Linked DNA regions of Homo sapiens: regions 1 and 3 are each linked to region 2. The links come from fine-mapping of genetic effects on gene expression. A gene starts in region 2. Each other region holds a variant in brackets. All regions are shown on one strand. Distances are from middle to middle. Region 1 has its middle 22 kb from the start of KLF11-DT. Region 2 holds the start of KLF11 (KLF transcription factor 11). Region 3 overlaps CYS1 (cystin 1).

Evidence for each region.
Region 1: its variant is fine-mapped to the expression of KLF11 in sun-exposed skin (GTEx, PIP above 0.99).
Region 3: its variant is fine-mapped to the expression of KLF11 in whole blood (TOPMed, PIP above 0.99).

Annotation. Positions count from the first base shown.
Region 1 is chr2:10,016,071-10,026,206 of GRCh38, reverse strand. No RefSeq gene overlaps it. Among named protein-coding and RNA genes, the nearest start is that of KLF11-DT, 22 kb to the left of the region's middle. The variant C/T (reference allele first, on the strand shown) is at 4,297.
Region 2 is chr2:10,038,345-10,048,076 of GRCh38, reverse strand. KLF11 (KLF transcription factor 11) reads right to left here and starts at 4,527. Exons shown (of 4, transcript NM_003597.5): 1 at 4,319-4,527; 2 at 1,658-1,927; 3 at 1-427. The coding sequence starts at 4,360. It overlaps KLF11-DT (KLF11 divergent transcript), which reads left to right and starts at 4,676. Exons shown (of 3, transcript NR_135558.1): 1 at 4,676-4,767; 2 at 5,073-5,444; 3 at 6,426-6,524. LOC112268412 (a long non-coding RNA gene) reads right to left here. Exons shown (of 2, transcript XR_002959369.2): 2 at 9,473-9,699. RefSeq lists an enhancer at 1,871-2,610, silencers at 3,834-3,903, 3,944-3,993, 4,114-4,163, 4,454-4,683 and a promoter at 4,370-5,269.
Region 3 is chr2:10,070,211-10,080,223 of GRCh38, reverse strand. CYS1 (cystin 1) reads left to right here. Exons shown (of 3, transcript NM_001037160.3): 1 at 1-318. The coding sequence starts at 1. Among named protein-coding and RNA genes, the nearest start is that of CYS1, 5.2 kb to the left of the region's middle. RefSeq lists silencers at 29-268, 339-678 and an enhancer at 8,433-8,934. The variant G/T (reference allele first, on the strand shown) is at 3,802.

The DNA.
Region 1 (10,136 bases), 22 kb after region 2:
TACAACTTATGCTCAAGAGGCTACATTCAATTAGAGTGGACAATTCAATGAGTGTTGACAGCTGTCCACACCTGTGACACTGCCACCATATTCATGGCCCAGAACACTTTCCTTTTTCTTTTTTTTTTTTTGAGACGGGGTCTTGCTCTGTCGCCCAGGCTGGAGTGCAGTAGTGCAATCTCGGCTCACTGCAAGCTCCGCCTCCTGGGTTCACGCCATTCTCCTGCCTCAGCCTCCCGAGTAGCTGGGACTACAGGCGCCCACCACCATGCCTGACTAATTTTGTTTTTGTATTTTTAGTAGAGACGGGGTTTCACCGTGTTAGCCAGGATTGATTCGATCTCCTGACCTTGTGATCCACCCGCTCGGCCTCCCAAAGTGCTGGGATTACAGGCGTGAGCCACTGCGCCCGACGTGGCCCAGAACATTTTCATCCTGTTTCTTGTGCCCCTTTGCAGTGAATTCTCCCCTGGAATTACTGACAACCACAAATCTGCTCTTTTGTCATTATAGAAGCTCATAGAAATGGAATTATACAATTTGTACTCTTCTGTGTCTGTTTATTCTTTTTCTGGGGGGGGGGGGGGCGGCGTTGCCCAGCATCATGTTTTTGAGATGAATCCATGTTGATGGATGTACCAGTAATTCTGTCTTTCTTGTTTTATGTTTATGTGGTTTTGCTGAATAGTACTGTAGGGATGTACCACAGTTGTTTTTTTGTTTTTTGGGTTTTCTTTTAATCAGGGTCTTGCTCTGTCACCCAGGCTTGATTGCAGTGGCATACAACGTCCAGGCTCAAGCGATCCTCCCACCTCAGCCTCTCAAGTAGCTGGGACTACAGGTGCATGCCACCATGCCCGGCTAATTTTTGTGTGTGCATAGAGATGGGGTCTCACTATGTTGTCAGGGCTGGTCTCAAACTCCTGGGCTCAAGCAATCCTCCTGCCTTGGCCTCCCAATGTGCTGGGGTTACAGGCGTCACCCACTGCGCCCAGTGCATTCACTCTAGGGCTGTTTTGTTAAACCAGGGGCCTGGTAAGCAGGGGCTCCTCTAACACTCCCATGGGCCCATGAGCCACCCTCATTGTTACCTGCCTGATGCTGCGTTTGTTTATCCATTCATCTGTTTGTGCACACTTGGGTTGCTTCCAGTTTTTGATGTTTAGGAATAAAGCTGCCATGAAGATTCACATTCAAGTTTTTGTGTGGACATGTGCTTTCATTTCTCTTGGGTAAAACGTAGGCGCGGAATTGCTGGGCCATTCTTAATTTTAGAAGAAGCCACCACAGTGTTGTTTCACAGCAGCTCCACCATCTTGCACTCCCGATGGCGGCGTGCAAGAGCCTCGGCTGCCCCACTCCTCCCCAGCACATGACGTTGCTGCACCAGGGTGTCATTTTCACTGTCCTAGGGGGGCCGAAGTGGCTTATGATTGTGGGTTTCATTTGTATTTGCCTGATGACTAATGAAGTGCGATGATTTTCGCATGCTGTTTTGGCCTTCTGTATGCAGTATCTTCCTCTGTGAAGTGTCTGATGGATTCTTTTGCCAATTTGTTTTTGTTGGGTTGTTCATCGGGATCATGTTTTTAATGGCAAACGTCAAAGCCAGCCCATATGTGTTCCCATGACACCCCTGTCATGTTTATGCGTGCACTCAAGCGCACGTGCGTGCACCCACATACCAATTCTCTTTTTTTTTTTTTGTTTTTTTCGAGACGGAGTCTCGCTCTGTCACCCAGTCTAGAGTGCAGTGGCTCATTCTCAGCTCACTGCAACCTCCGCCTCCCGGGTTCAAGGGATTCTCCTGCCTCAGCCTCTGAATAGCTGAGATTACAGCCATGCACCATCACGTCCGACTAATTTTTTATTTGTAGTAGAGACAGGGTTTCACCACATTGGCCAGACTGGTCTCGAACTCCTGACCTCAAGTGATCTGCCCACCTCGGCCTCCCAAAGTGCTAGGATTATAGCTGTGAGCCACTGCATCCAGCCCAATTCTCTTTAATAATGTAAAGTCGGAGGACAACAGGACACTGACTTTCATTTCACCTGCGTTTCAACTGTCCCATGAAAGCTCCGTGCCTGGGTGGCATTTACAGTGCTTTCACCTGCCTCATCGCATTAATCCAAACATCAGTGCTGTGAAGGGTGAGATGGCAAATGAGGAAACTGAGGCCCAAGGGGAAGAAGTGACTTGCTAAAGGCTACACAGCTTGAGAGGCAGATTGGACTTGAACCCAGGTTTGTCCGACTCTGAATCCAGTGCCGTTTGTTCACTGCCCAACAGCAGCCTGGGAACAGAACTACAATAAAATATACGTTTAAGAATAGAGCAACAGCAGCAGCAGCCCCACACTGTGACTACACTGAGTGCCTGGCTCTGAGGTCCTCACCCAGACCCTGTGTCTCGATACCCAGGGACAGAGCCGGGCCTGGAAGAGTCCTCCCTTTCACGGTGGGGGACCCTGGGACCAGGCAACCAAGGTCACAAAGTCTGTAGAAGCCCGAGTGTCTAAGCCTTAGAACCCCGATCCCAATGAGACCTTTGCTGGGGTCTCACCATCAGGGCTCTTGAAATTCAAAGCCACACCCTCTCAGCATCCGCCGAGATGTTAGGATGGAAAGAGGTACCCCTTGCTGCCACTTCACCCCTATGTCCCATCTATCTGCCCCAAAACCAGCCAGTTGGTGTCCCCATAACTCTGCTGCAGGACCACTCCAGCCTTCCCGAGCCTTCTGCCCTTCCTCCCGGGCCACAGCCCACAGGCCCCAGGAGCTGGTTTTGGGGGCACACGCTCTTCCAGCTCCCAGCATCTCCCCTCTCCTCCCCAAGTCTCAAGCCTCCCTGCCCCAACTCAGGATGGAGGTCCTGGACCCACAGCCAGGGAGAGCCAGGTGGGGCAGCCTGCACAGGAGGTCCGGGCACTTTCTGACTCTGGGCTCCAGAAGCCAAGGCCTCCCTCAAGGAAACAGAAAGGACTGGGGGCACAGTTCACATGATCATGAAGATAAGGGTTCCCGCAGCACACCCCATAAGAACCGTGGCACTGGCCTTTACACCCTGAGGTCCTACTTCACCCCTGGAGCCACGGCTGAGGGCAGGGCGCTGAGGGGCTGTGCCTGGGGACTTGTGCTGCTGAGACCTCCACTGGTGACACAGGGGCTCAGCACCCCTGGTGAAGCAAGCAGGGTCCCAGCAGAGAAAGGAACCTGCAGGATAGGGGTGTGGTGTGTGTGGTGTGTGTGTATGTGTGTGTGCACATGTTTACACGTGGATATGCATGTACGTGTGTTGTATAGCCAATTCCTTGCAATAAATCTCTCTATGAGACACATAAGAGATATTACATATACATGGAGGGGATGAGACAGAGAAAGGAAGGGAGGGAGGGAGAGATTTATTGTGAAAAATTGGCTCAGACAAGGTGGGGGCTGGCTGAGCAAGGTGGAAATCCATAGGGCAGGCGGCACCTGGGCCTCTCGGGCAGTAGGCGATGCTATAGTCCACAGGTAAAATCTCTCTGTCCTCAGGGAAACCCCAGCTCTGCTCTCAAGGCATTTCACTGGTTGCACAAGGCTTCCCACCCCTACCCCCGCCACATGATTGAGAGTAATGGCCTTTCACTCCAGTCAGCTGACTGCAGATGTGACATACTTACAGAACACCTTCACAGTAACCCCTAGATGACTATTTGGTTGACCCAAGAAACTATCATGCTTAGGGGCTGAGAGCTGCTGAAGTCCTGGCAGGGAGGGGTGAGGACCGGTGCTGCCGCCCTGGTGACCGGCGTTTCCAGGAGCCACCAGCCTCACCCACCATTTCCCGAGTTGGTCCCTCATCCCCTTGGCTTCCTGCGGCGGCCGAGGTGGGGTCCGGGGCTGCTGAGGTAGGGTCCAGGGCTGCTTGCTGAGCAGGGCTACCTGGTCCCCAGGGCTTCACCTGGAAGGCCTCCCACTAAGGCCCAGGACTGAGGCATCCTCAGGGCCCGTTCCACCGCCTCTGATGGAGCCTGGGGCTGAGCTGATGGGTGCTCGGACTCTACCCGACACTGCTCTTGTGCAGTGGCCGTCAGGGCTACCTGGACACAGCCTGGCTGCTGCCTCCACAGACCGCTCATGCCCAGACACGAGGGAGAGCCGCCTGTAGGTCTTCAGCTGCGAGCTCTGCCTCCAGCACTTCAACGGAAGGGAATGGGCCCAGGGAATAGGACGTGGGCTTGGCGCATGACTTGAAGTGCTTTCCACCCTACCAGATGCCCTGAAGATAAGAGCCGGCCCAGAACTCCGTGTCTC[C/T]GTGACAAAATGCTTCTGATCACCTAATCTGAGCGGCTGATCTCAAGTCTCTGCAGGGTTGTCACGTGTCAGGGGAGGAGAATCCAGGTGTGCTGGATCCAGCTCGCCCGCTCCTGGACAGATGGTGCACATTTCTTCTCAATCTCGTGTTCAGCCATGTCATGTTGGTAGCTTGAAATCAGCCATGATGAGAATATTTACACCACAGATGTTGACGAACACTTCACATGAGCTCCCCTCAATCCCCTGCGAGAGCTGCTTGTTAAACATTTACCTGCACACCACAGGAGAAGCCCCAGAGGATAAAGCTGGGATGGGGAGGAGGGAGGTTGGGGAGGAGGGAGGTTCAGGTATCTATTTTTTTTTTTTTTTTTTGAGACAGAGTCTCGCTCTGTCCCCAGGCTGGACTGCAGTGGCACGATCTCGGCTCACTACAAGCTCTGCCTCCTGGGTTCACACCATTTTCCTGCCTCAGCCTCACAAGTAGCTGGGACTACAGGCGTCCGCCACCACGCCCAGCTAATTTTCTGTCTTTTTAGTAGAGACGGGGTTAGCCAGGATGGTCTTGATCTTCTGACCTCATGATCCACCTGCCTTGGCCTCCCAAAGTGCTGGGATTACAGGTGTGAGCCACCGCACCCAGCCGGGTTCAGGTATCCATTACTAAGTAACAGCCCACCTCAAAACTTAGTGGCTTAGCCGGGTGCAGTGGCTCACGCCTATAATCCCAGCACTTTGGGAAGCTGAGGCGGGTGGATGGCCTGAGGTCAGGAGTTCGAGACTAGCCTGGCCAACATGGTGAAACTCCATCTCTACCAAAAATACAAAAATTAGCCAGGCTTGTGGTGGTGGGTGCCTGTAATCCCAGCTACCTGGGAGGCTGAGGCAGAAGAATGGTTTGAACCCAGGAGGCGGAGGTTGCAGTGAGCCGAGATCGCGCCACTGCACTCCAGCCTGGGTGACAGAGCGAGACTCTGTCTCAAAAAAAAAAAAACTTAGTGGCTTAAGATGACGGTGATTGATTCCTCCTCACGAGTGTGCGTGTCACTGGGGTGGTTCTGCTGCTGCATGTGGTATTGAGGAAGGTCACTCTTGCAGCTGCGTGCATGGCTTTTCCCTCCAGTAGGATGGCCTGAGCTCTCCACAGCGTGGCAGCTTCCCAGAGACCAGGAAGCTGCCAGGCCTCCCCCACATTCTATCCGCCAAATGGGTCTCAAGGCCTGTCCAGATCTGGTGTGGGAGGGAACTACAGAAGATCATCAATAGCAGGGGATTCACTGGGGCCCATCAAGGCAGCAGTCTTCCAGCTGGGTGGGCTGGCTCATCCCTGGAATCCCAGGATTTAAGGAGGCCAAGGTTGGAGGACCACTCGAGGCCAGGAGTTTGAGACCAGCCTGGCAACATAGCGATGACAGCCTGTCTCTACAAAAAATTAAAAAATTAGCCAAGCATGGTGGGGCATGCCTGCAGTCCCAGCTACTCAGGAGGTGGGAGGATTGCTTGAGCCCAGGAGGTTGGGGCTGTAGTGAGCTATGATTGCACCGCTGCACTCCAGCTTGAGTGACAGAGTGAGACCCTGTCCCCCAACACCCCCGCCCCCCCAAAAAATAGGCCCCGCAGTGTGGCCTGGTGAACTTGGCCTCCTTGAATGTGTCCTATATAAAGGTGTGTGTTGAGCTTCCCCTTGGGGCAAGGCACAAGCCCCTCGCCCACCCACGTGGTCTAACTGGACGCTCACAGCAGCCTCGAGAGGCGGTCCTGCCCGTCCCGGTTTCCAGGTGGAGCAGCTGAGGAAAGCCTGAGACGCTTGCCCCAGGTCTCCCGGGTTCTCAGCGGCCACCCGTTGTCCTGGGAGGTTGAGAATTCCTGTTCTAGGTGCCCCTTTGCTGGGACACAGCATCTCTAAAGGGGGAGACAGCCATCTTGAGGTCCTCCCTGTATTATGAGAAGAGGAAGCTCTCGCTGAAGAAAGGGAAGGCAGATCCTTCCTCCCCCAAGTCCACATCGTTTTCCTTCCTCTTAGGAGGTCTGCCTCTAGCTCTTATCTCCCCACTCCCCACGTGCACAGAGTCGCAGGGTGAGGGCTGAGCTGTGACGCCAGTGAGGCCAAGATGTCAGCCTAGGGTTGAGGACCCTGGCTGGGCGGGTCCTGCTGGGAGCTGAGGCTGCAAGACCCCGGCTTGGCCGTACCCCGAGAAGCAGCCACTGCACTGACATGGACGAACTGTGCCGTGTGGAACCCACTTGCCCCACCTAGATCTCAGCTTCCCTGCCGCCAAGCGAGAAAACAGAACTGACAGGTCTCTGATGGCCATCTCATCTCCATGCCAGGTGTTCTAGAAAGAGTTCAGAGACCCAAGTGTCCATCCACACTTGTCCACGTCTTGGTTCCAGGAGTGTCTGTCAGGGATGTTCCCCCTGACCCTGGATATTCCTTCTCCTCTGTGAAAGTACGGTCACGTATGGTGCAAGTATGGGCATGTGTGATGCAAGGGACGCTGCTGGGCAGCTGCCTGTGCAGGCACCGGGGACAGGAAGGTGGATAGGGCATAATTTGTGGGGGAAAAGGCATGTAAACATGTATTACAACATAAGAGAGTACGTGTAGCGGGAATGTAAATTTGTACAACCTTCTAGAAAAGTCATTTGGCAATACAGATCAGGAACTTCCCAGATGTTCCCAAATATCTTCGGAAACAATTATCCCATTTCTGGGAATCTAACTTAAGAGAGTAACCAGAACAAGGGAGAACAAGATGCTTATTGCAGGATTAGTTAGAACTTGAAAATAACCTAAATGCCCAACAACAGAGAATCAGTTAATTGGATTATGTCACAGACAGTTAATATTTCACAGCTGTTAAAAATAGCTGCTACAAAGAATTTTCATAAAATGGTTTTTGAAATAACATTAACTGAAAAATGCAAAACAGAATTGAGGAGATGGAGCTCCACTTGGGAAAAAATAAGATAATTCAGAGAGAAGGAATTTACCAGAATACCAACAGCGATCACATTTGGGTAATAAATGACTTTAGAGGTGATTTTAAAATTATTTTGTTTCTCAATCATCTTTAAAAGCCCAGTGCAAAGAAATTTGCTGGCCAGGCACAGTGGCTCATGCCTGTAATCCCAGCACTTTGGGAGGTTGAGGCGGGCAGATCATCTGAGGTCAGGAGTTTGAGACCAGCCTGGCCAACATGGTAAAACCCTGTCTCTACCAAAAATACAAAAATTAGTCAGGTGTGATGGCATGTGTCTTTAGTCCCAACTACTTGGGAGGCTAAGGCAGGAGACTTGCTTGAACCCGGGAGGTGGAGGTTGCAGTGAGCCAAGATCACACCACTGCACTCCAGCCTGAGTGACAGAGTGAGACTGTCTCAAAAAAATTTTTCCTTCATGAAGTCTTTTACAGTTCCTCTAGGCAGAAGTGATCTGTCACTCTTTGATGCCTGGGACATTTGTGCCTCTCTTGTGGCATCTACCCTCTGTGCTGTGCTCATATGTCTGTGTCTTCACCCAGCTGAACCCCTTAGTGATATGGCTGTGCACATGTTTGGGTCCTAGTGTTTAACTCCAGGCCTGCCCACACTGTGCACCTATTGGCCATCTAGATGTGCACTTGGGTTCTGGCTGGCTCCTATACCCGTGGTTCTCTTTTACTTTTGAAGACTCCTTTTAATGTTAATATTTTTTCGTGGTAGCTATACCATCTATCAGTGGAAAATACTCAATGACAAAAGACACCTTGTCTTTGTCCCATGAATTCAACAGGGCTTCTTTTTTTGAGAAGGAGAGTCACTCTGTCACCCAGGCTGGAGTGCAGTGGCGCAATCTCAGCTCACTGCAACCTCCGCCTCCCTGGTTCAAACGATTCTCGTGCCTCAGCCTCCCGAGTAGCTGGGATTATAGGCACACACCACCATGCCCGGGTGATTTTTGTATTTTTAGTAGAGATGGGGTATTACCATGTTGGCCAGGCTGTTCTTGAACTCCTAACATCAGGTGATCCACCCACCTCGGTCTCCCAAAGTGCTGGGATTACAAGGGTGAACCACCATGCCCGGCTTCAACAGGGTTTCTTATGGGCTAGTTTTTCTCCAGTTACGACTCAAATTTTCTTGCTTTATTACATGTCTAATAATTTTTGATTGGATGCTGGACATTATGATACAACATTGTTGGGAATCTGAATTTTGTTGTTTTCTTTCAAAGATTAGTGAATTTTGTTTTGGCAATGAGTTAAATTATTGGTAGATGTTTTGCTCCTCAAGGCTTGTTTGTGGGCTCGTTGGGACAGGTCTAGAGCAGCCGTTACCCCAGGGTTAGTGTAGTACACCTGAGGCATGTGCTTTTCAAAAGGACAGAGATCAGGGCAGTGGTTACCAGGGGCTGGAGTGGAGGGAGGAAAGGATGACCAAAGGGCACAGAGAACATTGGGCAGTAGAAATGTTTTCTATCTTGATTGTGGTGGTGATTACATGACTGTATGCATGTGTCATAGAGTTGTACACCTAAAAATGGAGAATTTCACTGTATGTAAATGATACCTGAATAAATCTAACTTTTTTAAAAAAGGGTGGTTTTTCTGAGGTCTTGGCTGAATGTCTGGCATATTCGGTGTGGTCTCTTCACTCTGGCTGCCCAGAACTCCAAGGTCTCTGTGCCCGTGCATCCTCTGGCACCCCCTTCTGCTCCCAGCTCCCAGCAGCTCTCCTCTGCCAGACTTTGCCGTCTCATCCTGTGCACGTGCAGTTTAGTATTCACTCAAAGACTCAAGAGAGCTCCTCTGCAAACGTCTGAAGCTCCTTCCCTGCTCAACCCGCTCCTCTCTGGAACCCCACAAGTTCCAGTCCCCTCGGTGGTCCTGAACTCCAGTCTCTGCCTGCTCCGGCCCATGCCATCACCACTCTCTGAGCTCTACTTCCCTGTGCTGTGTTCAGAAAATGCCCCAAACACCTCCGGGCAGAGAGCCAGGGTGAAGCTGGAACTCCCTCATGTGTGTCCTTCTCTAGGGTCACAGCCCTGCCATGGCACCTATGCTTAAAAACAGTTGCTTCATATAATTTGTCTAGTTTTCTAGTTGTTTATGGGGGAAAGGTAAGTCTGCTATCTGTCACCGTCTTATGGCCGGACCCAGCAGTCCCAGCAGAGCTGTGGGAATTTAAAGTTGGTTTCACTCCTCCCACCTCATCTCCATAAGCTCTATGCTCAAGCGGCTCGAGCGATCCCCAGAGTAGCCATCCCATGCTTGGAGTGCCTGCTCTGGACTCTGTGCGCCCCTGACTCCTAGAACATTGACACCCACCCTCCCTCCTCCTACTCACCCTGCAGCTTCCACTTGGACTCCAGGAAGTCTTCCCTGGCCCTTATGCTGGGCCCAGGAGGGTCTGTGTGTGCCCGTAGCTCCCAGGCATCCCCGTAACCACTTATCGGTTGTGTCTTCCCGGAGCCCAAGGACTCTGAGTATGGGGCGGAGACCCTGCCCCTGCTACATCCTATTCCTTCGCCTTGGGCCTGGAGCACGTCCACGAACACGTGTTGAACACAGAGTAAAGTAGCACCTGTGCACACATGTACACCCATATACACACCTGTCCACCTGACCCGCCCATATGCACATCCATACACACGCCTACCCACCTGACCTGCCCATATGCACGCCGGTCCACCTGACTCGCCCGTACACACAGTGGTCCACCTGACTCACCCATACACACGCCTGTCCACCTGACTGCCCATACGCACGTCTGCCCACCTGACTCGCCCAAACGCACAGCCATACGCACGCCTGTCCACCTGACTCACCCATACGCACACCTGTCCACCTGACTCACCCA
Region 2 (9,732 bases):
CTTTGTCAGTGAGCAGCAGGCCACCAGACTTGTGCAAGCAGGGCTGACAGGACACCAAGTTAGTGCTGAGTAAACTGTCCGTGAGGTGTGTGTCCTGCAAAGTTTCAAAGTGTCCCAGAAGCTGCTCTTCTCCTTCTCTGCTGTCAGAAAGCCGGCAATCTGGAGTCTGGATGGTGGGAAAGCAGGCAGCAGGGCTCTCCCCAGTGTGTCGGATCACGCTAGTCCCCTTGGCCCTGCAGGGAGAGCTGGGCACTGGCTCCAAACCCAGCAAGCCCCTCTCCGCGCCCCCGCTCAGAGCTCTGGCCACTACGGCAGAGGACTGGAGAACATCCGTGGCTGTACATGCTTTGGAATCTGTTACTTGGGGAGAAACAGGTGTCCTTGTCGATGGCTCCACGAGATCAGGGCTCTGAGGAGGAGTTATGCACTAAAAAAAAAAGTACCATGTTAAAAGGTTGCTTTAAATTTTAAAAGGGATTTAATTCATCACAATGCTCCCAATACCTTTACACAGAATCATCTAGACACTCAGTTAACCCTGTTTTCAACATCCCAGTGGGTTTCAAGGCTGCATGAGGCACTCTGCTTTCTCAGCTTATTCCCAACGTGTTTACCTCTCCCAAACCTACACAAGAGCCCAGTGCAGGGAACTCTGAGAGGAGCTCCTGGCCGCCAGGCCCACCACTTCTGCAACCCTCCCGACAACCCACAGGCCCTTCCTATCCCTCTCCAAATCTGCTTTCTACACTCTTCTTTCAGAGCAAGCTTCCAGCCCAGGACAATCACAATTTCCACTTCTGTTAGCAACCTACAGTTCTCAGCTTCTCCAAGCTGAGATGCAATTTTTCCAAGTACTTTCACAGATGTAGCAAATTAAAAAAACAAAAAGCAAGAGTGACTTACTGCACCCAACTCACAGAACTCACATTAAGGAGTCGGCTGCCACGGGAGGGCAGAGGTGCCACCCAACGAAGGCAATCTGATGTCAAAGTACATGCTTTCTCCAGCTGCTACCGATATATTCTGACACTAGGCTGGAGAACCTAAGCTCCACCCCGAGATTCCCCTGGGGAAGTAAATTTCACTTTCTCACATTAATCTGTAGGTTTCATCCCACGGACATTAACCACGTAGCTAGCAAGGTATGATCCATCCATAGAAAGAGCACATTTTTCAGAAATGAAAGAAAAGTTTCTTTTTTTGTTCTTTTATTTTTTTTTGAGATGGGGTCTCGCGCTCTGTTGCCCAGGCTGGAGTGCAGTGGCACGATCTCGGCTCACTGCAACCTCCGCCTCCCGGGTTCAAGCGATTCTCCTACCTCAGACTCCTGAATAGCTGGGACTACAGGCGCCCGCCACCACACCCGGATAAATTTTGTACTTTTAGTAGAGATGAGGTTTCACCATGTTGGTCTGGCTGGTCTCGAACTCCTGACCTTGTGATCTGCCTGCCTGGCCCTCCCAAAGTGCTGGGATTACAGGCTTGAGCCACCATGCCTGGCCAAAGGAAGAGTTTCTACTCCTTCAGACCCACACAGAGAGGATACGCAACTTATTTGCCAGCATCCCAGGGAATCTTCTCACAAGTTCTTCAACACACTGAGTTCAGCTACTCTAGTCATTTCACAAAAACGCTCCTCCCTCCCACCTCCTCTTACCAGAGTCGATAAAGAATGGAAGTCTTTTGGTAGTTCAGGTGTGGCTGCATCCATATGCACAGTGGTGGTGACATCCCCAGAGTCAGAGACAGGCGTGAGGGGTCTTATCCGCAACAGGTCACCTTTCTGGGATCTTTGACCCCAGGAGCTCATACAAACAAGAGCCTCGACAGCTTCCATGTCTGTCTGCTCCAAGATGCTGCAAGTAGACCTTTCGCTGTCATGCCGCTTCCTCTCCAGGATGGACTCACATATGTCCATGATGTCAACCTAAAGGCGACACAACACAACGGCTTCTCAGTGCAGGGGAAATACAGAGGCCACCCATGATGGGCATGTGGATATGCATATCAGAAGCCTACAGTAGGCATGTAATGCACATGCAATAGTCTATAGCAACAAACACCGAGGTGTAGTAAAAGACATTCAAGGAATGCTCATGACAATTCGGCTTTTAAGCCAACATTTCACAGACAGAACTAAGCTGGCAAGCGTTGCCACCAAAAATCCTGACTCTTAAAAAGGGCTACTAAGTTCATATTTTTCTTGGGTAAATGATTAATAAAATTAACTCCTGAGGTTCAAGCCAAAAAGTGGCTGGGAGGAGGAGCAGCTGCCCAGGGAGGAGGAGCCAACACTGAGGCCATCTAGTCGGTCTGCCAGTGGCCGCGGCGCCCTGACCATGGCTCTCTGAGGCGGCAAAGCCGCCAAAGCAGTGTCCCTACAGATGCTCTCAGGGACTCTGGGGCCTTCCGCCTAGGCTTCCAGCACTCCACGCAGGTAGGGCCCATGGCGATTCCACCAGTTCCCTCCACAGATTCGGGAGTGGAAGTCATCTGTTACTGTCCCAAGGCTAGCAGGTGGTGACAAGAAGCCAACCTGCCGCGAACCCGGAGAGGATCTCTTTGCAGTTTTTTTTTTCTTTTTGAGATGGAGTCTCAGTTGCCCAGGCTGGAGTGCAGTGGCACAATCTCGGCTCACTGCAGTGCCCGCCACCACACTTGGGTAATTTTTGTATTTTTAGTAGAAAGAGAGTTTTGCTATGTTGGTCAAGCTGGCCTTGAACTGACCTCCCGGGTTCAAGCGATTCTCCTGCCTCAGCCTCCAGAGTAGCTGGGAGGCGTCCGCCACCACGCCCAGAAAATTTCGTATTTTTAGTAGAGACGGGGTTTCACCATGTTGGCCAGGCTGGTCTCCAACTCCTGACCTCAGGCGATCCACCCGCCTTGACCTCCCCAAGTGCTGGGATTACAGGCGCCCGGCCTTGTTTTTTTGAGACAGAGTCTTGCTCTGTTGCCCAGGCTGGAGTGCAGTGGCACCATCTCGGCTCACCACAACTTCTGCCTCCCAGGTTCAAGCGACTCTCCTGCCTCAGCCTCCCCAGTAGCTGGGATTACAGGCGCCCACCACCATGCTCAGCTGATTTTTGTATTTTTAGTAGAGAGCGGTTTTCCCCATGTTGGTCAAGCTGGTCTCGAAAGCCCGGCCTCAGGTGATCCGCCCACCTCGGTCTCCCAGAGTGCTGGGATTACAGACGTGAGCCACCGCACCAGACCCTCACCGTCTCTTTAATCTGGAGGGGAGGAGGGAAGAGGCTGGAATGAGCTGATCTCTTCCAAAAGAAAACTAAGCCGGGGGCGAGAGGGTGATATTACTCTGAGAAGAGTAATACCCCTCCCTCCCAGGGAGGTTACAGTGGGCCGAGATCGCGCGCCCACTGCACTCCGGCCTGGGCGATAGAGCGAGACTCCCTATCAAAAAAAAAAAAAAGGAAAGGAAACTTTAAATGTACGAAGATACACGTTTCCTCTCTATCTGCCATGCACCAAAGCATCAAAGCTTTCCGTCTGCCGAGGTTCCCCGAGATCAAACAAGACGAGGCCACCTCAAATCCCCGGCCTCTGTCCCGCAGGCTGCGCCACTAAACCCCCTGTGATGTCACAGAACCGGGCGCCGAGGCCGACTCACCACACGGGCGGGAAGGGGCTCGCCCGGCCCACAGTGCCCGCACACCACGAGGCCCGCGCTCTGCCCACGTCCACGGCTACCTCCCCGAAGCCCCCAGGTCGCGACGCTTAGGGCCCCCAACGCTCGCGTGCCGCGTTCCCGCCTCCAAGCGTTGCCCCGCCTCCAAGGCAGTGCGGCGCTCCCGCCTCCCGTCGTTGCCCCGGCCCCTAGACCTTGCCCGCCCCCAGGCCCGAGCGGCACTACCGCTAGCCGCTCTTAACCCGCCCGACGGCCGCGTGCCCCGCCCCCAAAACCGTGCCGCGTTCCCGCCAGCAGCTCTTGCCCCGCCCCCAAGGCCGCGTGCCGCGTTCCCGCCAGCCGCTCCCCCGCCCAACGGCCGTCCGGCTCACAGGACCGGGGTGACGTCATGGCTGGAAATAGCCGCGGGGCCAGCGGGGCGGGGCCGCCCAGGAAGCGCAAGACAAAGCTGCGCGGGGAACACGCCCCCTCCTCGCCCCCGCCGACCCGGGCGCGCCCGTCGCGGCCGCCGCCCCGCCCGGCTCCGGAGCCCGCCCAGGCCCCTACCGGCGCGGCCGCAGCGAAGCCCTGCACGCCCCACCTCCCGCATTTACAGGCGCGCGAGTGCCGCACCACTTCCCCCGCCTCGCCCCTCGCTCAGACGAGTAGTCCCGCCGCGGCAGCCCCACCACTCACTGCGCGCGCGTCGTCTGGGCCTGCGAAGTCCGGCGTGTGCATCGTGCAGGCCGGCCGGGAGCAACAAAGCGGCCGCGGGGCGTGAGCTCGGGCGCAGCAGCGGCCGCACGTGGGCTGCGGGCGGCGGCGGCGGCGGCAACCCGGAGCTCCTGCGGCCGGCACGCGCCTCGCCCGCCCGCGCGGCTCTGCCCCGGCGCGGCCCTCGCGGCGCGGGAGGGGCGGGGCGGCCGCGGAGGGAGCGGCTGGCGGGGCGGGGCGCGGAGGCGAACCAAAATACACCGCGCCCCTGCCGGGGCGGGGCCGGCCACCACCAGCCAATTCGTGCCCGGCCGGCCAATGAGCGCCGCGGGGGGCCGCGTGATCGGAGCCTGGCCGCGGCGTGATCGGGCAGGGCGGGACGCGGCACGTGTTTTGGTCGGAGCGAGGGGCGGGGCCTGAGGCCCTGGAAAGTAAGGGAAAGGTCGCAGCGGCGCCAGGGGCAAGCGGGGCGGAGGGGGCGGCGGGGGCGGAGGGGGCGGCGGGGGCGGAGGGGGCGGCGGGGCGGCGGGGGCGGCGGGGCGGAGGGGGCGGGGCGGCGGCTGGGGAAATCCCAGGGCCGGGGCCGGACTCGGTGCGGGGAGAGGGGACCACGCTTATAGGAACCTCCTGCAGCCCCACCGGCTGAATCCATCGGTAGCGGAGACCCACCTAGAGGCCTCAACCTGGCTTTTGTTTGGTTGTTTTTAACTTCTGTCATTCTCCCTTCGTCTCTTAGGAATGCGTCCTTGACCGGAGAGGTCGGAAAGCTGGCCGGTTCTAGGTGACATTCCTGCATCCGGTCATTTTTGCAGACAGCGGGAGTCAGAGCTTATTGGCCTGAGTGTCCCGCTGACGCCCCTCCTCTGGCGTCTCTGGGCCTCTTCCGCTCTGTTACGGGGTCAGGGGAAGCCGAAACGGGCAGTCACCCAGAAGGCGCCCGCTGAAACCCGCCCATTCTTCCCAGGCCCCGAGAAAACGCCGCCCCCTCCGGGAAGTCCTCGAGCCTGCAGGAGACATCTAGCCCGCTGTCCAGGGCACCTTTTTTTTTCTCCCTATATTTCGGTTGCTCGCGTCTCTTGGTGTGGTTTGCCCACGTCTGCAGCGCCAGGTTCGTGGAGAGCAGGAACCATGCTGTTTATTTTCGTCGCCGCAGCCTTCAGCTCAGCGAGGAGCCACCCCTCCTCCGTCTGTTCACTGCGCGCGCCTTTGCTGAGCTGTGATGCGGGTTGGCGCTCAGTGCAAGGGGCAGAGGCCGCAGTGAGGAATCCTCCTTTTTTAAAAGCTCCATCCAGGGAGCGGGAGCAGAGAGAGAATCCCGGCACCCCGGGGCTTTGCTCTGAGCGAGAGAATTCTGGTCTTAGGGGAACGGGCTGGGCCCCACCACTCACATGAGCAGGACTCTGGTCCCCACTTGTTCCTTCGGGGCCCACTCGGGTTGGGCAGAGGGGTTGACCAGGCTGAGGAGAGGGTGTTTGCTGAAATAGTAAGAGGGTTTAAGACGAAAGAACCGTGATAAACTGCTCGCATGAAGACCCCGGAGGCTCTGAGAGGGGCGCAGGGTGTTCTGTGTGTAAAAAGTTAAGTCTTAAGATACACACTGGAATATTCTCTTTTGCCTGGACTCCTGCATTCGCCTTATAACTGGTCTCCCTGCGTCCACTCCAGCTCCCAGAGCCTCTTCCCACTCAGCACCCCCAGGGGTCTTTAACCCTTTCAGTGGCTCCCACTGTACTCAGCGTAACGCTTCTGCTCCCCACTGTGGCTTGTGAGCTCCTGCAGGGACCCAGCCCCATGCCTCTCCCCACGCCCCGGAGGGACAGCCTGGGCCTCCTCTTGGGCGCCTGTCCCACCAGCCCCTCTGCCGTCTCCAGGTCCTCGCACTTGCTGTTCCCTAGAATGCTTTTCCCCCACATGCCCCCTTTACTCTCACCCGCAGTCCACCTGGAGAGGCCCCCTCTAGCGGACACACCCTCGGGGCCGACCTCCAGTCCCCTTCTGGCGGGCTTTCTTGTTTTCTTCCTCCACAACACTTTTCTTGAACTGCCCCTTTTCCATTACTTCAGTTATTTATCATCTGTCTCCCCACCAGAAGGACTCTCCCAAGGCCAGGGAGCCTGGCTGTTTAATAAGTCCACGTAGGTGAACGAGCGAATCGAAGGTATCCACCAGCCTCCCTGCTTGAACATCCCGTGAGCACCTCTAATTGTGTCCTTAAAAAAACTGAACTCAGGGCCGGGCGCGGTGGCTCACGCCTGTAATCCCAGCACTTTGGGAGGCCGAGGCGGGCGGATCACCTGAGGTCAGGAGTTGAAGACCAGCCCGGCCAACATGATGAAACCCCGTCTCTTCTAAAAATACAAAAATTAGCCTGGCACGGTGGCAGGCGCCTGTAATCCCAGCTACTCAGGAGACTAAGGCAGGAGAATCGCTTGAACCCAGGAGGCAGAGATTGCAGTGAGCCGAGATCGCACCACTGCACTCCAGCCTGGGCGTCAGAGACTCAGTCTCAAAAAAACAAACAAAAAACTGAACTCGGATTCCAGCCAAATCTGGATTTCTCACCTCCGTGAAGGGTACAACTGGAGACCCTGTTCCTTGATCTAGAAACCTGAGCGTCACCTTTACCTCCTCCCTTTCGCACAGTTGCTGTCTTCCGCCAATTACATGCCCTTCTTCCTTCTCAGTTCCTCTCAAACTCTTATGTCACCCACGCCAGCCCTTGTCCTGGCCACCACCTGCTCACCTGAATTGTTGCCACTGCCTCCCAACAGGTCTCCCTCCCTCCAGCCAGACGCCCTACAATCTGCCCTCACCTCACTGCCAGAATGATCTTCTGGAAGCAGAGGTGGAGCTGAACCTGTATTCAAGCCGTCAGTTGGAATCCAAACAGTTATAGGACTGACTTCAGGCTCCATGGCCAGGAACCCATGAGTCTTTGTAGCCAGGCTCCAGCCAGCACTTCCTGCATCATTTCTGACCAGTTTCCCAAATTGCTTTCCCTGCTGCCTTCCTGCCCCCACTGACCCAATACAGAACCCTGTACTCTCAAGGTCACGCCACTCTCTTCTGTTTCTAGACAGCATTCCTTCTGCGTGGAACATGCCAACCCTCGTCTGCTTTGACTTTGCAAAACTGCATGAGACCGCCGGGCGCGGTGGCTCACGCCTGTAATCCCAGCACTTCAAGAGGCCGAGGCAGACAGATCACCTGAGGTCAGGAGTTTGAGGCCAGCCTGGCCAGCATGGTGAAACCCCGTCTCTACTAAAAATACAAAAAATCAGCCAGTAATCCTAGCTACTCGGGAGGCTGAGGCAGGAGAATCGCTTGAACCCAGGAAGCAGAGGTTGCAGTGAGCCGAGGTCATGCCATTGCACTCCAGCCTGGGCTACAAGAGTGAAACTCCGTCTCAAAAAAGAAAAAAAAAAAGAAAAAAAGACTGCATATGACTCCCCAGTGAAGCCCTCCCTGATTGGCCTCTGCAGAAGGCAGCATGCCCGGGCTTTGGAGTCAGACCTGCATACAAATCCTTGTTTTGCCGGTGTGACCTTGCCAAGTCTTCTTTCCTGCAGGACAGAAGGCGGCAGCAGCTCTCCCTGAACTGGCACTCTGGCTTCTCTTGCCCCAGGGTCTGTTTCTGCTCCTTGGACAGCAGGCGCATGTGGGAACTGTGCCCTCTTCAGCCATGAGCCCCTGTTCTGCGCACATCTAGCCCATCTTCCAGATGGACAGACAGTCTGTGGTCGTCGCCAAACCCCTGAATCTGGCCCTGCCCGCAGTCAGAGGGATGGCAATTTGTAAGCTACAGACTATTGCGAATCATTCACTTGGAGACTGAACTAAGACTACTGGCACCAGGCTCCGTAGACCCTCGGGAAGAGCATGGTCTGGCAGGCAGACTGGATGTGGCCACAGATAACATCCCCTAAGGGGAGAGCGTGAGCCTGCAGGCCAGAATGCCACCACTTTCTCCTGTGTCGTTCCAGAGAGAGCCTGTGGCTATGCACGCTTGCTGCTACAGAGGGTAGTGCTGTATACCTCCTGGGCTCACTTACTGACTTTTCAGTCTAAGGGCTTATTGCAATTGGTACATAACGATCATACTTTGTAATGGTTAAGTAATATTCCATCATATGGATGTGTTGTTTATTTAACATTCTGGTTGAATAACCAAGACTTTTAGGTTTCCAGTTTTCCAGGAACATCATGCCCCTCCATCATTTGCCCACCTGGAAGGATAACTACAGGATAAGCAGCTCTTAGAACTGGAATTGCTGAGTTAACTGCTCTGTGCATTTCCTTGCTTTTTCTTGCTTTTCTTTTCTTTCTTTTATTATTTTTTTGGGTAAATTTTTATTGAACTATAGCATAGCGTAGATACAGGAAAGTGTAAAAACTTAAATGTACAATTCAATGAATTTTCGCTAGGCAAACACTGTGTCACCAGCACCCAGATTTAGAAACAGAATATTACCAGAATCCCAAAAGCCCCATGAGCTGCCGTCCAGTCACTACTTACCGTTTCCCTGATCCCCTGCATAGGATAATCCTTATCATGGCTTCTGACACTTTCGGTTGGTTTTGGATGTACTGACACTTTTTGTGTGTGTGTGACACTTTTATAATACAAAGAAAATCATACAGTATGTTCAGTTTGGGGTCTGGCTTCTTTCACTCAGTGTGTTGTTGTGGGCAGTTGGAGTTTGTTTATTCTCATTCTTCTGTTCTCTTTCTCTTTGGTTGAGTTTACTGGGCTGGAAGCAGTACAAGGACCAGAATATGCTGTGAGCTGACCAGCCACTGGGCTGGCTGGCTGGTTGACAAATGATCTAACAAATGGTTGACAAAATGGATGGATGAATGAATCACAGACCCACTAATCCACTGACCTGTTCAATGCCTGACTGGAAATTGAGTGTCCATTCCTCCCAACACCCCAGGGCCCCTGTCTCCCTTTGCTAGGGGCACTCATGATGGTGAGCAGAGAGGTCTGTAGGTGTAGCTGAGGCACAGATCATCCAGGTCAACCTGCGTATTTTAGATGGGGAAACTCAGGCCTAGCAACTTCACACAAAGCCACTTTGCTCAGGGGAAAAATCATCATGACGCTGTGTCTGATGTGGTTGAGGTACGAAGGAGGACCAGGTCAGAAGACGTTTATTAAATACCAAAAGTAGGCCAAGTGTCATGCTAGGGGCTAGCTCTTCATGCCTTTTGATTCCCTGATTTCAGCCCCATTTATAGATGAAGTCACTGAGGGACGAGAGGTGAAGCCACTTGCCCGTCATTGTCGGCCAGTGAGTGGAGGGCCCGGGATCCATCCCTCCAGCTCGGGTCCAGTGCTGCTTTGTCCCAGCTGCCTGCCCCTGGAAAAGAGGCTGCTAAGAGCACGTGCTGAG
Region 3 (10,013 bases), 32 kb before region 2:
ATGGGCAGCGGCAGCAGCCGGAGCAGCCGGACTCTGAGGCGGCGGCGCAGCCCCGAGAGCCTCCCCGCGGGGCCCGGAGCGGCAGCCCTGGAGGGCGGGACCCGCCGGCGGGTGCCGGTGGCGGCGGCCGAGGTCCCGGGGGCAGCCGCGGAGGAGGCGCCCGGCCGCGACCCCAGCCCCGTGGCGCCCCCCGACGGCAGGGACGAGACGCTGCGCCTGCTGGACGAGCTGCTGGCCGAGTCGGCGGCCTGGGGCCCCCCGGAGCCCGCCCCGCGCCGCCCAGCCCGGCTCCGACCCACCGCGGTCGCGGGGAGCGCGGTGAGTGTGGGAGCCGCAGGGCCTCGGGGGACGGCGGGGACCCCACTCACCGGCCGCGCGTCCCCGCCCCAGCCCTGGGCGCCGGTCGCGCTGCGCCCCCTTCCAGCCTCCGACTTGCGTGCTCCCCGCTGCCCCGGCCTCCCCGCCCCTGGGCCCCCAGGTTTCCTCCCTCTCTGCCCCGTCTCCGGGTCTGTGTCCAGGCGTGGGGGCGATCGCGCTGGGAGCGGCCGAGGAAGGACACCCCTAGGCGGAGCGCGCCGGGCTCCCGGCTCCCCTCGGGCCCGCGGCCCCGCCTGGCCTTCCCGGGCCGCCCTGGAGCGGGGCGCCGGCGGTGGTGGCACGGCAGCCAGACGGTGGCTCAGAAGCGCCCTGCCGCGCCCACCGGTCCAGATCCTTGCCTTGCTGGGCAGGCAATTCTCATGTTACTGATATTTTTAGGATGCTGCGGAATCTCTTTTGCGCTTCCTATTCTCTCTCCCTGAATACTCGTAATAACAGTCCTGCTGTTCTAAAAAAACAATAAAACAAGCACTCTGGTTTGGCAACCGTCTTCGCTCCAGCAGAGCTGAATGAACAAGATCTTTAACATCCGCTCCCGGGCTCGGGGAGGATGCCAAGGGCCTCGTCCTCCTCCCTGAGGCCCGGGAGGCTTTGCTTAGCAGCCGCTGGGAGCCGAGGAAGATGCCTTCCTGGGTGGCTACCGCACCAAGGAATCCTGAAAAGGCCCCAGGGAGGGTGGGGGAGAGGGACAGCCCCAGGCGACAGTGCACAGAGCTCTCTCCCTCTGGCCCTGGTTCCCTGCTCCTCTCCCTTACGGTCTTTAAAGAGGAAAAGCGAGCTGCAGTGAGTAGGGCTGAATTATATAACAAGATTCCTTTAATACCACATCAGCCTGCAGTTATATAACACTGCCTGGACAAATAGCTGAGAAATTTGGGAGGAATTCACACATAGCAAGGAGGCAGTTAATTTTAGTGTTCATTTTCAAGTGCTTTGGAAACTCGGAGGTGAAAATGAGAGGCAAATAGCAAGAGTGAATGTTGTGCCCTCTGATTTGCTGATATTATTCATCATGGTGACTGCTCGCTCTTTAAGTCATTTTCCAGCTATCCTTTGAGCACCGGTCCCGCTGTGGGTGCTAGGGATGAGGCCACACAGCATAGCCCTTGCCTTAAAGAAGTCTGCAGCTCGATGGGGGAAAGTAGAAAGCAGGGCGATGAGAGATCCGTATCAAAAGGCCACAGGAGAAAGCGGCTAATCCCAAGGGAGGCAGGTAGGCATTCCCGAAGGGATGAATTTGGAAGTTGTCCTGAATCTGGAAGGGTCTGTGGACGTGATCCAGGCAGCAAGTTCTGTGCAGAGAGAACCTCATGCCTAATGTCACTGGTGGCTGGGGCAGCTGGTGCCCAGGGCATGGGTCAGAGAGGTCTTAGGAGAGTATGCCAGGCTGCAGTGCGCCATGCCAAGGGTATTCCATGTTAGCGAGTTTGGGTTACTATGAAAGTTCTGGGTATCTGAAAGGTAAGGATTGTGACAGTTTGTGTTTTAGGAACGTCACACCGACAACTGTAGGGAGGATGAACTGGACAGAGTCAGACTAGGGATAACATGACCACCTGTGTGAGTGGGTGGGGGAGTCTGCAATGATCCAGGTGGCCGAGTCCTGAACCAAGGCAGTGGCGGTGAGAGGCTTGCAGAGGAGATGGTTTCAGGAATTGTTGAGGAGGTCAGCCAGCTGCAGTTGCCCTTCTGGGTGTGAACTGTGTGTATCTTTTTTCTTTCTTTCTTTTTTTTTTTTTTGAAACGGAGTTTCACTCTGTTGCCCAGGCTAGAGTCCAGTGGTGTGATCCCGGCTCACTGCAACCTGTGCCTCCCAGGTTCAAGCGATTCTCTTGCCTCAGCCTTCTGAGTATCTGGGATTACAGGTGCCTGCCACCACGCCCAATTTTTGTATTTTTAGAAGAGACGGGGTTTTGCCATGATGGCCAGGCTGGTTTCAAACTCCTGACCTCAGGTGACCCGCCCACCTTGGTCTCCGAAAGTGCTGGGATTATAGGCATGAGCCACCTCACCCAGCCGACTGTATGTATTTTCTGCACCATAAATATTTCTTGAATAAATGAATCCTAGAATCACAGATTATTCGAGGCGGAAGGGAGCCCTTGGGTCCAATTCATTATTTTCAGATAACGCCTGCATACTACAGATGTGCGCCACCACGGCCAGCTAATTTTTGTATTTTTAGCAGAAACAGGGTTTCACCATGTTGGCCAGGCTGGTCTTGAACTCCTGACCTCAGGTGATTCACCCGCCTTGACTTCCCAAAGTGCTGGGATTACAGGTGTGAGCCACTGCACCCGGCCAATAACACTACTTTTAGTTTCTTTAGGAAGAAAGGAGGAAAAGAAACCTTTAATAGCTTCATAACTGTCTAGCATTTTGGAGGAGAGACATATTCTTCATAAAAGAACATCAAACTCAAGTGAAAGTTATTCTTTTAAGCACTCACATTTAAAAATTTTGACCACTGTTGACTGGGAATGTCTTAGAGATGGTCTGTTTATCCCTGAATCATCATTCTGAATATTATGTTTTGTTTTTGTTTTTGTTTTTTGAGACAGAGTCTCGCTGGAGTGAAGAAAGGGGGAGTGAGGTGGCAGGCACAGAAGCTGGGGTTGTGCTGGGGGAGGGGAGCTTCTGCAGTCATCCAAGTGAGATGTGGGGTCATTTGGACCAGGTTGGCGGGCGGTGGTGAGGGGCGGTTGGCTTATGGACTCACTAGTGGGGTGACTGGGATGTGTGAGAAAGAAAGGAATCAAAGGTGAACCAGGAGTTCTTGGCCAGAGCAGCTGGAGGGATGTAGCTGCCGTGAACAGACACAGAAAATGTGGAAGGGGCAGGTTTGGGGTGTCATTAACCAGGAAGTTGGTTTTCAGTATGTTAAATTTGAGATGCCTGTCAGACATCCAAACAGAAATGTCAAGTGAGTAGATCTTTGTAAGAGTTTGGCATTCAGGGGAGAGGTCAGGTTTGGAGTTCGTTTAGAAGCCATTAGAACATGGGAGGATTTAAACCCATGAGATTAGATGGGATCACCAGTGACGATGCTGCCAGCGTGTGCTTAGGAAGCATGGATGGGCACCGGGCTCTGTCCTGGGAGCTTCGTGTATGTGAACTAACGTGGGACGAGGCCAGGGGTTGAGCACGCTGTTCAAAGGTTGAGGAGATAGAGGCATCCTAAAGAACAGCCAGTAAAGGGGAGAAAACCAAGAGAACATCCGGAAGCCAAGGGAGGAAGGTGCTTAGGACGGAGGGCGTGCTCAGCTGCTGGAAGTGCTGCTTGGTGGGATATATGCGGGAAGCCTGAGAGCTGGTGGTTGAATTGAGCCACTCGGGAGGTCTCAAGGTCCTTGGTGAGAGATGGGTCAGAGAGTGGTGGGAGGCGCCTTGGGCTGGAGTTCATGGAGAATAGGACACAAGGAG[G/T]GCGGTGCAGTCAGCTCTTGTAGGAAGGCTCTTTTTACAGCGCAGCAGTAGTGGATGGCGGTAGGGATGGTGCTGCTGGACCTGGAATTCACCAGAAAATCTTAGTCCCAGAATGGGCTGGATAAGAGGAGGTTTTGAGCATTAGATGCCCTCGTGAAATTTGAAGGAACCCTTGGAGAAGAAATTTTGGTTTAATCAAGTAGACATAGATTCAGTATTTTAATTTTAATTTTTATTTTATTTTTGAGATGGAATCTTGGTCTGTCGCCCAGGCTGGAGTGCATCGGCTCACTGCAACCTCTGCCTCCAGGATTCAAGCAATTCTCCTGTCTCAGCATCCCGAGTAGCTGGGACTATAGGAGCATGCCACCACGCCTGGCTAATTTTTTTGTATTTTTAGTAGAGATGGGGTTTCACTATATTAGTCAGGCTGTTCTTGAACTCCTGACCTCAGGTGGTCCCCCTGCCTTGGCCTCCCAAAGTGCTGGGATTACAGGTGTAAGTCACTGTGCCTAGCCAGATTCAGTATTTTTATTAGCAGGTGGTAATTCAGATTGTTTTCCTCCCTCTGCCTATAAACCTGGGTCACTCAAGGTCAAGGGAAGTACGTTATCTGAGAATTTTTCTGTTTTGCAAGAGAGTCTCGGGCAATAGTGTCCTCTCCTTAGGCTGAGGGACTCTGTCATCCACCATTTTTGGAAAGGTTCCATTTGCTGTAGCCATGGAGCATCCGGATAATTCTTTCTTGCCTGTTACCCCAGCCAGGACTTTACAGTAATCTTGGCATGCAGCTGCTATGGAACTCACGGTGTAAAGAGAGCAGTCACAGTGAGTGCCTGGCGGGACAGCACCTCCACAGAAGGACGTCAAGGTGATGGGTAACTTAATGGACTTGCAGCAAAACAAAGTCACTGTCCTGAAGACGGTGACTATCTGCCTGCGTTCAAGTCTGTAGCAAAGAACACAAATTTAAATGGCAATGAGTGATATTTCAATTGATCCAGGGGACAAGAAGAAAGGATGGTGCGGACCCCCAAAAAGCTCATAACCGTGTTGGGAAGGGGTGCGTAAATGCACGTTTGCAAGTTCCCGTGGAAGCATGTTGTAAAGGCATGCTCCAGTGCGTCTGCACACGTGGAGGCGTGGGAATCCCACCCGAGGCAGAAGTCTTCCAGTGGATCTGGTGTCTGAGTTGGTTCTAAAGGATCACTAATGTGTTCCAGCGGTTGACAAAGGGTGGAGCTTTCCATAAAGAGGAAACAATGTGTAGAAAACTCCAGAGGTCCAGAAGCGATTTTTTTTTTTTTTTGAGATGGAGTCTCACTCTATCTTGCCCAGGCTGGAGTGCAGTGGCGCATTCTCGGCTCACTGCAGCCTCCGCCTCCCGGGTTCCAGCAATTCTCCTGTCTCAGCCTCCTGAGTAGCTGGGACTACAGGCATGTGCCACCATGCCCAGGTAATTTTTGTATTTTTAGTAGAGACGGGGTTTCGCCATGTTGGCCAGGCTGGTCTCAAACTTCTGACCTCAAGTGATCCATCCGCCTCAGCCTCCCAAAGTGCTGGGATTATAGGCATGAGCGACCGCACCTGGCCCAGAAGTGCTTTTGAACAGCCTGGAGTTTATGTGCCATTCAGCCAGGTGATGTCGGAGAGCAGAAACCAATGAGACGGGTTTGGGTCACATTTTCACAGGATTCCAAGCTAAGAGGTTGAACTGTCCTGTAGGCAGTGGGGAGCTAGGCGAAGTTTTCTGTGTTTCATTATTTTTAAATGTTTATTTTAAAAATTAGAAGAGGTAATACACAGGCACATGAGGGGACATTGAAAACATGCATTGCAAAGAAAATTTCCCTTCCTCCCAACTCTTTCCCCAGCTCCCCTCTCCAGAGACAAGCAGCTTCTCAGTTTCTTGTGTGTCTTCCCAGCCTGTGTAATAGAAGGATCCACAGTGGCGGGGGAGGTTGTACTGGGGGAGACTGCATGGGGGCAGGAGCCCAGGTAAGGGAGGAATCCAGGTGAGAGGTGGAGGAGGAGGTGAGGTGAGCCACTGAGTTTGACAAGCAAGGGAAAGTGAGTTTCTAGAAAGACTCCAAGATTCCCTGCTTGTGTAGTTGAGAAGATTCAGAATGCTATTAACAGGATGGGCCTAGTTTTGTACAAGTTGAGTTTTGAGTCCTAGGTGGATAATTTCCGTGGGCTGTCCGAAATTCCTGTCAACTGCGAAAAGTGGTTGGAGCTGGAGCTGTCATTTCGTGGACATCAGCATTTGGATAGTGGCTGATGCCATACCAGAGTACAGTTGCTGAGGGAGAGCGTGTGGATGGGTGGGGAAGGATGCCAAGCCTGGAACATGAACATCAAAAACTGAAGGAAGAATTGTCCTCTCTGGAGTTCTATAAAAAGAGTAGGATTAAAAGATGTTAGAAGCCCAGTGCCTCGACCCGGGGGAGGAGCGGGCAGCCTCAGAGGCTCTCTCCCTTCATGGTCCCTGGCTGCTGGCTGCTGTAGGTGATTAGAAGCCTGGTTGCATCACGGTCAGGGGTACAGCCTCACATTTCCTGCCCTGCTGAGAGGCTGTGGTGGCTGCTGCTGAGTACTGGGCACGGCAGGGTGTAGAAATGCCGTGGAAAGGAGGATGTCGGCTCATGCACTCTTCGAGAGATGCTGACCAAGAGCTCTTAACCTTGGAGCTTTGAGTCCCATAGGGCTGGGGCAGACCCTAACTAGACTCTGGGAAGGAGGGTCAGAGCAGTGGTTTGTGCACAACACAGGCCCTTCTGCCCCTAAATGCCGTGAGCCCATTACCCAGCAGGGAAAGCAGCCCCCTGCCCAAGGCCACCCATTCCGATTCCCACCAAGCTCTGTTTCTTGATAGTATATGGCCAGACAGCTGTCATTTCTTTCTATTGCTGAAATCCGAGATGACTTGAGCTTAAGGGACCTCACAGATGGTTCAGTCCCACCTTCTTATTTACATCGGAGGACTTTGGGGCCCAGCAAGGAGTGGGAGGGTGCCTGTTTGCAGGTCAGGCCAACCGCAATCCACACCCTGTTAGCACGGACAAGTCTCTCAGACCCTGAGTCCAGTGACAGCCTCTCTGGGTCTCCCTTGCCTTTTTCCCTGTGGCTTTGGAAACACCTCCTTCAAGGCAAGGCCTTCCCAGTGGAGACGGGCCCTGGACTGGCAGCCCACAGCCGGGGGGGGGGGGGGGGCGGTTCCCAGAGCCCCTTGTCACGTCCTTGTCATGTTAGCCATGCAAGACAGGTCTCATCGCAGAGCCCACCTGCACCGCTGCCCCCCAGAGCCCATCTGCACCACTCCCACACAGCCAGCCTGCACCGCCCCCCCATGCAGAGCCCACCTGCACTGCTCCCACACATCTGCTCTGCTCCCACACATCTGCTCTGCTCCCACACATCTGCACTGCTCCCACACATCTGCTCTGCTCCCACACATCTGCACTGCTCCCCCGCGCAGACCCCACCTGCGCCATCCCCCCCTACGCAGAGCCCACCCGCACCACTCTCCGACTCACAGCCTGCCTGCACCGCTCCCCCACCGCTCCTCCACCTGCACTGCTCAGCTTCTGCTGCCTGCAAAGCCCTACAGTGGAGCTTCCCCAGGGCACTGGGATCTTGGCCTCTGTGTGGGGAGAACAGTGCCCTCTGGTGGTGAGCAACAGAACGAGACTAGCAAAATTGTGAAAGCTGGGTCAGGTCCAGGAGAGCCGTTGTAGGAGTTTCTCTACTGTACATGTTCAAGTTTCCTTAAGAAAACCGAAAAGCCAAACAAACCAAACCTGGGCTTCAAAGAAGGATAATTCTGAAAGAGGAAGGGGGAAGTGTATCCATACTATGGAATAAAAGGAATGGAATTGTTCTGCCAATTACACATATAACTGGTGTATGTACATACATACATATTAAGCTGCTAAAAATTAAGAGTTAATGGAAGAACTCTTTCAGGAGAAGAAATCCACTGTATATTTTATTTTGGGTAAATATGCAGTGGATTTTCTAAAAAGTAACCTTTGGGCCGGGCACGGGCACGGTGGCTCACGCCTATAATCCCAGCACTTTGGGAGGCCGAGGCAGGCGGATCACCTGAGGTCAGGAGTTCGAGACCAACCTGGCCAACATGGTGAAACCCCAGCTCTACTAAAAATACAAAAATTAGCCAGGTGTGGTGGCGGATGCCTGTAATCCCAGCTACTCAGGAGGCTGAGGCAGGGGAATCACTTGAACCCAGGAGCAGAGGTTGCAGTGAGCTGAGATCCCACCATTGCACTCCAGCCTGGGCGACAAGAGCGAAACTCTGTCTCAAAAAAAAAAAAAGTAACCTTTGAAACTTTAATTTTCACGAAAACTTTAGTTTTAAGAGTCAAAAACTTTAAGAGATGATCTTATTCGCTTCATTCTCATATGTTTTCTGCTTCTTGTTTAGCTGTGGTTTGGTCTTTCCAAAGCCCCCCTAGAATCTCAAGGGATGACACACACCCCTCGCACGCACACAAACATACACATACAAACAGGGCGCACACACACACTGGTCCTGAACTCAGCTCAGTTCCCAGGGCCCCAGCCCAGGTGCTGCCGGTTCCCCACGTCCGTCCAGGTGTCTCAGTGATCTGCAGGTGGAGGCAGCCCCCTGGAGGAGCCCCTGTCTGCAGGAGGCTGGAGCCACCATCTGGGGCTGCTGTGTCTTTGCTTTTCATACCAGCTCCTCCTGGCTGCTTCAGCAAGCTTGTGTGTTCTGGGAGTCTCATGCTTTTTCCATCTGAGAAAGTAAGTTCAAGGCTTAAACAAATTGGCCAGATAAAGGGCCACGCAATAAAATCTCAGGCACAGAGAAAAACACAGGTGAAAACAACAGAAACAGCAAGGCTGAGCCATTGGGGAAATTGCTTCCTCCTGCGTCCGCTCTGGGGGGCCGTTCACGCACTGGATGGCATTCCATCCTTAAGGCTGCCCTGAAGCTGCAGTGTCTTCATGTTAGTGAGCAGTGCAAAGTCAGGTCCCTACGCCAGGCATTCCAAGCCCCCTGCCGCAAGGGTCCCGCTGCCCTTTCAGAAGGGCAGCAGCAGGCAGCTCAGTGTCCACCCTGACAGGCCCTGGGCTTGGCTGGATGTCCTGCCTTAGCTTTAAGAGGTTCTCAGAGCCGGGCACGGTGGCTCACGCCTGTAATCCCCGCACTTTGGGAGGCCGAGGCCGGTGGACGGCCTGAGGTCAAAAGTTCGAGACTAGCGTGGCCAACATAGTGAAACCCCGTATCTACTAAAAATACAAAAAATTAGTTGGGCGTGGTGGCGGGCACCTGTAATCCCAGCTACTCGGGAGGCTGAGGCAGGAGAATCGCTTGAACCTGGGAGGCAGAGGTTGCAGTGAGCCGAATCACGCCACTGCACTCCAGCCTGGATGACAGAGCGAGACTCCGTCTCAAAACAAAACAAACAAACAAACAAAAAGGGTTCTCAGGCTGGGCGTGGTGGCTCACCATGCCTGTAATCCCAGCACTTTTTAGGAGGCCGAGGTGGGGGGATCGCTTGAGCTCAGGAGTACAAGACCAGCCTGGGCAACATAGGGAGACTTCGTCTCTACAAAAAGTACAAGAATTAGCCTTGTGTGGTGGCATGTGCCTGTAGTTTCAGTTACTCAGGAGGCTGAGATGGGACCGTTGCTTGAGCCCAGGAGTTGAGGCTGCAGCGAGCTATGATCAGGCCACCGCACTCCAGCCTGGGCAACAGAACAAGACCCTGTCTCGAATAAATAAATAAATATGCCAGGCGCAGTGGCTCACACCTGTAATCCCAGCACTTTGGGAGGCTGAAGCGAGTGGATCACTTGAGGTCAGGAGTTCAAGACCAGCCTGGCCAACATGGCAAAACCCCACCTCTACTAAAAATACAAAAATTAGCCAGGTGTGGTGGCATACATCTGTAATCCCAGCTACTCTGGAGGCTGAGACAGGAGAATCACTTGAACCCTGGAGGCAGAGGTTGCAGTGAGCCGAGATCACGCCACTGCACTCCAGCCTGGATGACAGAGCAAGACTCCATCTCAAAAAAAGTGAAAAATAAAAATAAAACAGGTTCTCCATCTCAGCACGGGGACCGCAGCGATAGAGGTCAAGGCAAAGCCACACCCATCAGAGGGTACTGGGCCAGGCTGGGAGAACCCTGGGGAGCTCCTTGGCATTGAACCAAGTACACCAA